Regions from separate parts of the Homo sapiens genome. Here regions 1 and 2 are each linked to region 3. The links come from fine-mapping of genetic effects on gene expression. A gene starts in region 3. Each other region holds a variant in brackets. All regions are shown on one strand. Distances are between the middles of the regions. Region 1 has its middle 25 kb from the start of PTPN1. Region 2 overlaps RIPOR3 (RIPOR family member 3). Region 3 holds the start of PTPN1 (protein tyrosine phosphatase non-receptor type 1).

The links.
Region 1: its variant is fine-mapped to the expression of PTPN1 in non-classical monocytes (Schmiedel 2018, PIP 0.95).
Region 2: its variant is fine-mapped to the expression of PTPN1 in whole blood (INTERVAL, PIP 0.97).

What each region holds. Positions count from the first base shown.
Region 1 is chr20:50,483,583-50,486,339 of GRCh38, forward strand. No RefSeq gene overlaps it. Among named protein-coding and RNA genes, the nearest start is that of PTPN1, 25 kb to the right of the region's middle. RefSeq lists enhancers at 200-249, 290-399. The variant C/CTT (reference allele first, on the strand shown) is at 1,333.
Region 2 is chr20:50,593,333-50,596,089 of GRCh38, forward strand. It overlaps RIPOR3 (RIPOR family member 3), which reads right to left. Exons shown (of 22, transcript NM_001290268.2): 16 at 2,037-2,172; 17 at 1,221-1,382. Among named protein-coding and RNA genes, the nearest start is that of MIR645, 8.9 kb to the left of the region's middle. The variant C/T (reference allele first, on the strand shown) is at 1,442.
Region 3 is chr20:50,509,128-50,511,884 of GRCh38, forward strand. PTPN1 (protein tyrosine phosphatase non-receptor type 1) reads left to right here and starts at 1,256. Exons shown (of 10, transcript NM_002827.4): 1 at 1,256-1,463. The coding sequence starts at 1,401. RefSeq lists enhancers at 430-1,017, 1,230-1,329 and a silencer at 890-1,119.

The DNA of each region.
Region 1 (2,757 bases), 26 kb before region 3:
CCGGGGCCAGCAACTCCAGTACACTTCCCTTCCCACACATGTGACCTGCCATGCGCACATGAAGCACACAGGCTCTGGGCAGAGAGATGCGGGTGCCGGAGGTTGGGTATACGTCACCAGCATTTATAGAACTGTCCATCTAGCTTCAGGCAGCTCTCTTGAGTGGGCTGAGGAGGATGAGTGAGCACTGATGCTGGCCAGGAAACTTAGGAGAAGGAGGGGAAAGGAAGAAAGGAACAAAACTAACATTTATAAAGTGCAGGGTAGTTGCCAGCCATTAGCACAGTTACTTTCGTTTTCTGATTCCCATTGTACAGTTGAGAAAAACGAGCTCAGAGAGGGAAAGTGACTTGCTCTTGACTATGTGACAGTTAAGTGCTGGAATTCCAGCTCAGATTGAGTCTACAAAGACAGTGTTCTCTATCTCCCTCTTCCTTTTCTCCTTGTCCTCCTCTTCTCTGCTTTTCTCTCCCTCTCCCTCCTCCCCACCACCTTGTTTATTTTTTTTCCAAATAATATTTAGAGTTACCAAGACAGAAGTCAAGAGGAAAGCTTTCTGGTGTCCTTAAAGATGTGCTTTATGAAAGATAGTTTTCATTTGCTCTTTTATTCATTTGACACATTTATTAAGCACCTATGATACGCAATATATAGAAAACAAGACAGACACAATCCTTGCCCCTTAGGCTTTATACTCTAGCAGGAAAAGGAGGCATTAAACAGCTAAATACACATGGCGAGGAGGGGGTAAGGGAAGCCTAGATGGGGAAGTGGGGGAGTGAGATGGGAACAGGAAGGCAGCCATAAAAAGCAATTAGTTGATTACGTTGTGATACAGGTTTCTCAACCTCCGCATTAGTGAAATTTTGACTGGATCATTCCTGTAGGCTGTTCTGGGCATTGTAGGATATTTAGCAGCGTCTCTGGCCTCTACCCACTAGATGCCAGTAGCATTCTTACCCTGGTTTTGACAACCAAAAATGTTTCCAGACATTGTCAAATGGCCCCTGGGGGGCAAAATCACTCCCAGTTGAGAACCACTGTGGTAAATAAGAAAGGCAGATACGAAAACATGTAACAAGGAAACAGAATCTAGGCATACCCACAAGGAAGTGCCTTTAGGACGAGATCCATGTGACAATAGGCATTAGCCAGGCAGAAAGCAGGAATGGCATCCTAAGTAGAGTAGACAGCATGTGCAAAGGCCCTGTAGCCAGACCTGAAAGGATACTGGAGAACAGAGAGTGGCCTGGTGAAATGGGCAGGGCTCAGTTCACACAGGGCCTTAGAGTCTGAGTTATAAATTTTAGCCTTTATCCATGGTCACTTTTC[C/CTT]TTTTTTTTTTTTTTTTTTTTGACACAGTTTCAGTCTTGTTGCCCAGGCTAGAGTGCAATTGTGCAATCTCAGCTCACTGCAACCTCCGCCTCCCAGGTTCAAGCAATTCTCCTGCCTCAGCCTCCCGAGTAGGGATGTGCCACCATGCCTGGCTAATTTTGTATTTTTAGTAGAGACGGGGGTTTCTCCATGTTGGCCAGGCTAGTTTCAAACTCCTGACCTCAGGTGATCTGCCCACCTCGGCCTCCCAAAGTGCTGGGATTACAGGCGTGAGCCACCATGCCCAGCCACTTTTACTTTTAAAATTCATTTCAGCATGGTTAAAATAATAAAAATAAACTAAATGACAACAGACAACATCAAGTGCTGACTAAGATGCAGAGCAACTGGAACTCCCATACACTGGTGGAAATGCACAACGGTAGAGCTTCTTTGGTTGTTTTTTTTTTTCTTTCTTTCTTTCTTTCCTTCCTTCCTTCCTTCCTTCCTTTCCTCTTTCTTTCTTTCTCTCTCTCTTTCTTTCTTTCTTTCTTTCTTTCTTTCTTTCTTTCTTTCTTTCTTTCTTTTTTTGAGACAGAGTCTTGCTCTGTTGCCCAGGTTGAGGTGCAGTGACACAATCTCGGCTCACTGGAACCTCCACCTCCTGGGTACAAGGGATTCTCGTGCCTCAGCCTCCTACAGTACAGCTTCTTTGGAAACAGTTTGGCAGGTTTGTTTGTTTGTTTGTAAAGTTAAACCTACGGTTATCATACAACTCACCAATCCTGGCCAGGCATAGTGGCTTATGCCTATAATCCCAGCACTTTGGGAGGCCAAGATGGGAGGATTGCTTGAGGTCAGGAGTTTGAGACCAGCCTGGTCAACACAGTAAGACCCCGTTTCTATAAAAATAAATAAATAAATAAATAAATAAATAAAGTAAAAATCCCACTTTTAGAAATATACCCAAATGAAATAAAAACTGTTTATTTAATAAAAACACAAAAACCTGTACAAGAACGTTTATAGTGGCTTTATTCATAAAGGCCAAAATATGGGAAACCATCTAAATGCCCCTCTACTGAGGAAAGATTGAACAAACGGCAGTACATCTGTACAATGGAATACTACTCACGAGTAACAAGATGAGAACTCTTTTTTTTTTTGAGATGGAGTTTCGTTCTTATCACCCAGGCTGGAGTGCAGCAGCATGATCTTGGCTCACTGCAACCTCCACCTCCCGTTTGCAAGCAATTCTCCTGCCTCAGCCTCCCGAATAGCTGGGATTACAGGTGCCCGCCACCACGCCCAGCTAATTTTTCTATTTTTAGTAGAGACAGGGTTTCACCATGTTGACCAGGGTGGTTTTGAGCTCCTGACCTCGGGTGATCCACCTGCCTTGGCCTCCAAAGTGTGGGGATGAGAGGCATGAGCCATCGCGCCCA
Region 2 (2,757 bases), 84 kb after region 3:
GAGGCCAAGGTGGGCAGATCACCTGAGGTCAGGAGTTCGAGACCAGCCTGACCAACATGGTGAAACCCCATCTCTACTAAAAATACAAAATTAGCTGGGTGTGGTGGTGCCTGCCTGTTTCCCAGCAACTCTGGAGGCTGAGGCAGGAGAATCGCTTGAACCCGGGAGGTGGAGGTTGTAGTGAGCCAAGATTGCGCCACTGCATTCCAGTCTGGGCAACCATGAGTGAAACCCCATCTCAAAAAAAAAAAGGGTTTCTGATGGCACGAGGGCAGGTGTCCCTCACTGCATTCCCTGTGCTGTAGGGGAGGAGTGTGCCCAGCTAGAGTCAGGACTGTGACTCCAACTCACCCTGAGTCAGACCGTGTTGGGTTCATCCCCATGCCCTGGGCCCCACACCACACCTGGATCAAAATCCCGGAGGCAGGGCCTGGGAATATGCATGTCAACAAGCAGTCCAGGTGGTGCTTGGAACATGACTGTCACCTTTCACTTGCTCCACAGAGAAAGGCAAATTCTGGGGAAGAACGCAGTCCAGCCAGCATTTCTAGATACCCTCGTGGGCCCCTGCCTGCCTCCCTTCCCATAAGGTTCATTCTTTACCCGTCAGGCTCTGGTGGGAGGCATGGAATCTGTCCCCAGAAAAATGCTCTGGCGGCCGGGCGCAGTGGCTCATGCCTGTAATCCCAGCACTTTGGGAGGCCGAGGCGGGCGAATCACAAGGTCAGGAGTTCGAGACCAGCCTGGCCAATATGGCGAAACCCCGTCTCTACTAAAAATACAAAAAAAGAAAATTAGCCAAGCGTGGTGGTGCACACCTGTAATCCCAGCTACTCGGGAGGCTGAGGCAGAAGAATCGCTTGAACCCGGGAGGTAGAGGTTGCAGTGAGCCATGATTGTGCCACAGCACTATAGCCTGGGCGACAGAGTGAGACTCCATCTCAAAAAAAAAAAAAAAAAAAAATGCACCGGCCCACCAAGTTTGCACGCAGCTTCAGGGCTCCACAGACTGCTCAGAAGGCCCCACGTGGAGGCCCCTTCTCGCCCGGTGAAAGGGCGGTGACTCGCACTGAAGCTGAGAAAGCTCCTCCGTCCGATGGCATGAAGACACAGAGGTGAAGACAGGGCTGAAATGAGGCCAGCTGTGGCCACCCTGAAGGCCCTGGAGACTCAATACAGCCTTTCTGTGGGAGGGGACGACAGGACAGAAGGGAACCCACCTATTTCCAGCTGTCCTGGGTACTTCCCTCTGACTCTGTGCTGGAAGGTTTTCTTGAGCTGGTTCAGCAGCGTCGTGGCAGGGCAGGACAGGACCCTGCCAGGCCCTGTGCACCCTCTCCACAGCTTCAGGCACCCCTTCGTCCGCGAGGCCTGTGGGATGACTGAAAGCCCCAGTTCAGAAACCTGAATGGTGACTCGGGGAGAGCACATGACAAGGACC[C/T]GAAAGGTTTCCCTCCACTAGGACCTGAGGGGGTAGGGAGGAGGGGACGGTGTGGCTTGATGCGAGGTCCCTTCCCTGCATTCCCATGTGACACGTGAGCAACTTTGGCTCTAAGCATCTTACCAGGGCCACCACCTGCAGTCCCCACAACAACCTGGGAGGGGCTGCTGTCACCAGCCTCTCCTTACAGACAAGGAACCTGGCCTTCTGAGGGGAGGTCCCACGGGGCAGAGGCACAGCTGGGATCACAGCTACTGTTTGACGGCACATTCTGCACCTTGAATGTGGCCTGGGGTTACCTCACTGAACCCCGTGCAGTGCCCTCCTCCTATGCAGATAGGGAAGCAGAGGCTCAGAGATGTGAATCATTTGCCTAGAGTCACACAGCTGACTGAAGAGTGTGCTGCAACTCCAGGACTTGTCTCCCTTACCTCCCCACAAAGAGTGTGTATCTCTGAGCCCAGCCCAGCCACAGCCTCCACTCTGGGCCCCGATTAACTCTGGCTATTAGGAAGGCAGAAGAGGCTCCCCGAGCTTTGATCCCGTCCCCGTGCCGCTCACATAGGCAGCCCCTGGGTGGCAGGCAGCTACTTACTCTCTTCAATGGATGTTGCCTTGCCGACCTTCTCAAAGTCAAGGACAGAAAGTGTCTCCAGAACGTGCTTTTGCTGTGCCACTTCTTCCAGGAGGCATTCCTGGACCAGCCTTGATAAATTAGGGGAGGCCAGTTTCTGGGAAGCAGCCCAGATGCTCCAGATTAGCATGGAACATGCCCACCGAGGTCAGCTGTTACGGCTGTGGCTCCCACCTGCTTGTGCCCATCTCTTCTGTCCCGGGGGCAGCTCCCTGACTGTCATTTGGGGATTCCCCTTTCACCAAGGTGGCTGAGCTAATGGGATGCAGGCTGGGCTGCCAGGGACCACCTTTGCCCCCAGAAGGAGGACCAACCTGCCTGAAAGTGAAGCCAACCCACATTGCAAAGCAGAACTGAGAGAGACCTAGTCCTGATAGCATTTGAACCCGTGCATCCAGCCGAGCCTGAAGCCTACCTCTGAGGCTTTCAGTACCATGAGCCGATAAATTTTCCTGTTGGCTGAGCCAGTTTGCATTAGGGTTCTGGCACCTATAAATGAGAGTCACCACCAAAGCCTTTGGTTTAGGGCTTGGCCTGTGTAAGAGCCACACGAGTATTCACCCAGACCCTGGTCTGCCTCTCTTCCACTGGGGAATAGCTTCAGTCTCACGGGCTTCCAGGATGCAGGTCTGTCACCCCTTCATGCTTCCCACCACCTTCAAGATGAGCCTTTGCAAAGAGG
Region 3 (2,757 bases):
TGTTTGTTTCGCTCTTGTTGCCCAGGCTGGAGTGCAGTGGAGCTATCTTGGCTCACTGCAACCTCTGCCTCCAGGGTTCAAGCGATTCTCCTGCCTCAGCCTCCCAAGTAGCTGGGATTACAGGCATGCGCCACCACGCCCGGCTAATTTTTTTTTTTTTTTTTTTTTTTAGCAGAAACCGAGTTTCACCATGTTGGTCAGGCTGGTCTCGGACTCTTGACCTCAGGTGATCCACCTGCGTCGGTCTCCCAAAGTGCTGGGATTACAGGTGTGAGCCACCACACCCAGCCCTTTTTTTTCAAGACAGGGTCTCTCTCTGCCACCCAAGGTGGAGTGCAGTGGCGCCAAAACAGCTCACTGCAGCTTCCACCTCCTGGGCTCAGGTGATCTTCCTGCCTCAGCCTCCCCAGCAGCTGGGCCCCACCACACCGGCTAATTTTTTAACTTTTAGTAGTGACGAGGTCTGATTCTGTTACCCAGGCTGGTCTGGAACTCCTGGCCTCAAGACATCCGCCTGCCTCTGCCTCCCAAAGTGCTGGGATTACAGATGTAAGCCACCGCGCCTGGGCTCCTATGATTTTTATTTAACATAATGCACCATGGAATTTGTGCTCTGCTTAGTTCAGTCTGAGCAGGAGTTCCTTGATACTTCGGGAAACACTGAAAATCATTCCATCCCCATCCATTCATTCCTGCAGCACCCAAGTGGAAATTCTGCGTTTCAGACAGGGACACTACCCTTAGAGAGCAGTGGGCTTCCCCAGCAGCGTAGTGAAACATGATACTCCTGAGTTTCATGAAAAAAGGGCAGACATCTGGCCAGAGCTGGGAGGCAGGAAATAGAGCACGGTGCCCTCCTCCCATACTCCAGCTTGGATTACTGAGGCTGGGGCCCAGGCCCTGCAGGAAAGGAGGTGCATGACTACTTTAAGGCCACTCACTCTGTGACTCAACGGGCCGGGTCGGGGCTGGAACTCAATGCCCTCCCGGGCCTGGAGAGCCCACGCGCCGTGGGCGGGGCTCCCGGGGTCGCCTAGGCAACAGGCGCGCGCCGCGCCCGAGCCCAGAGCCCCAAAGCGGAGGAGGGAACGCGCGCTATTAGATATCTCGCGGTGCTGGGGCCACTTCCCCTAGCACCGCCCCCGGCTCCTCCCCGCGGAAGTGCTTGTCGAAATTCTCGATCGCTGATTGGTCCTTCTGCTTCAGGGGCGGAGCCCCTGGCAGGCGTGATGCGTAGTTCCGGCTGCCGGTTGACATGAAGAAGCAGCAGCGGCTAGGGCGGCGGTAGCTGCAGGGGTCGGGGATTGCAGCGGGCCTCGGGGCTAAGAGCGCGACGCGGCCTAGAGCGGCAGACGGCGCAGTGGGCCGAGAAGGAGGCGCAGCAGCCGCCCTGGCCCGTCATGGAGATGGAAAAGGAGTTCGAGCAGATCGACAAGTCCGGGAGCTGGGCGGCCATTTACCAGGTGCGGGAGCGCCCCGGAGCGTGGCGGGCCCTTCGCTTAGGCCGCTTGAACATCCCCTCAGACCTCCAGGCCCCAGACTCCCTCTGGGTCTTGCCCTCTGCCTCGCTCCTACTGCTTGAGGATTCGATGGGACAGCGACGCACTGCGTCCCCCCACCCTTTGTCCCCGGGGCGGGCGTGTTTCTCGCCGCAGCGTCGGAGCCCCCTTCGATCCCCCACCTCCCTTCTGTTCTCCAGCTCGGGTGATCTCTCAAGCCGGGGGACCGCCGGTCTGTGCTCTCAACGCGAATCCCTCGCACCCCGACCCCGCCCCCTGCCTGTCCACTCTTTGTCCCCTGGGGTGATTTAGCACCCCCACTATTTCCTTTTCTGGAGTGGACCACCTCAGACTCTCTTCCTTTGTCTCCCTGGGGGAAAAGGTTACTCCCCCCGTCCCTCCTTCACATTTCCTTTCCCCTAGTCTCAGTGTGCGTCGAGTCCCAGAGATGACAGTCCCCTTTCCCCTTTCTGTTCATTCATTTATTGGATAGGAGTTGGCAAGCTTATTCTGTGCTAGGCACCGCTTAGGCATTGGAGGTGGTGTTTGCTAATCAGGACAGGCAAGATCCTAGCCTTAGTGGGGCCTAGAGTCGAATAGGGCAATCAAACACAAAAGCAAATAATTTCAGATAGTGACAGGTGCTGTGAAGAGAACGACTTCCTAACGGGGTACAGGGTGACTGCATAGAAGGCCGGCTGTCTTAGAGAAGGGGATCAGGGAAGGCCTGTCAAAGGAGGAGACATTTGCTTTGTGAGCTGAACCAAGAGGAGCAGAAAGCCGTGAGAATATGGGGCTAAAGAACCTTCTAGCCAGGAGGCCTGCGGTACCCACTCCATTGGGGCCATGATATTATTCTTTCAGGCAGGGACTCAGGAAGGTTAACGTTTTAACCCTCTCTAAAATAGCATCTTTCCTCAATGAGCAGCTTAGTCTTTGGTCGTGGCAGAGATGACCTTGTCTTAGGAGTCATCTCCTTGTGTGTTAAAAAGTTAGGAAAGGAGGGTTTCTCATATATCTATAAAACAAGTAGTTAAAAACACAAAGAGCTCTTCCTTTCACAAGCAGCTGAATAAGATACATACTCCCAATTAAATGTCATTGCGGGGGTTGTTAAGATTAACTAAAACCACACTTGCACAGTATCTTAAATAAGCGATATACAGAATAGAGAGATTTTGTTACTTGTGTAAAGGGAGACAGCAGATGATTCTGTTTTCAGCTTATAGGCTCAAAAGGCAAATTGTGAGATCCATCA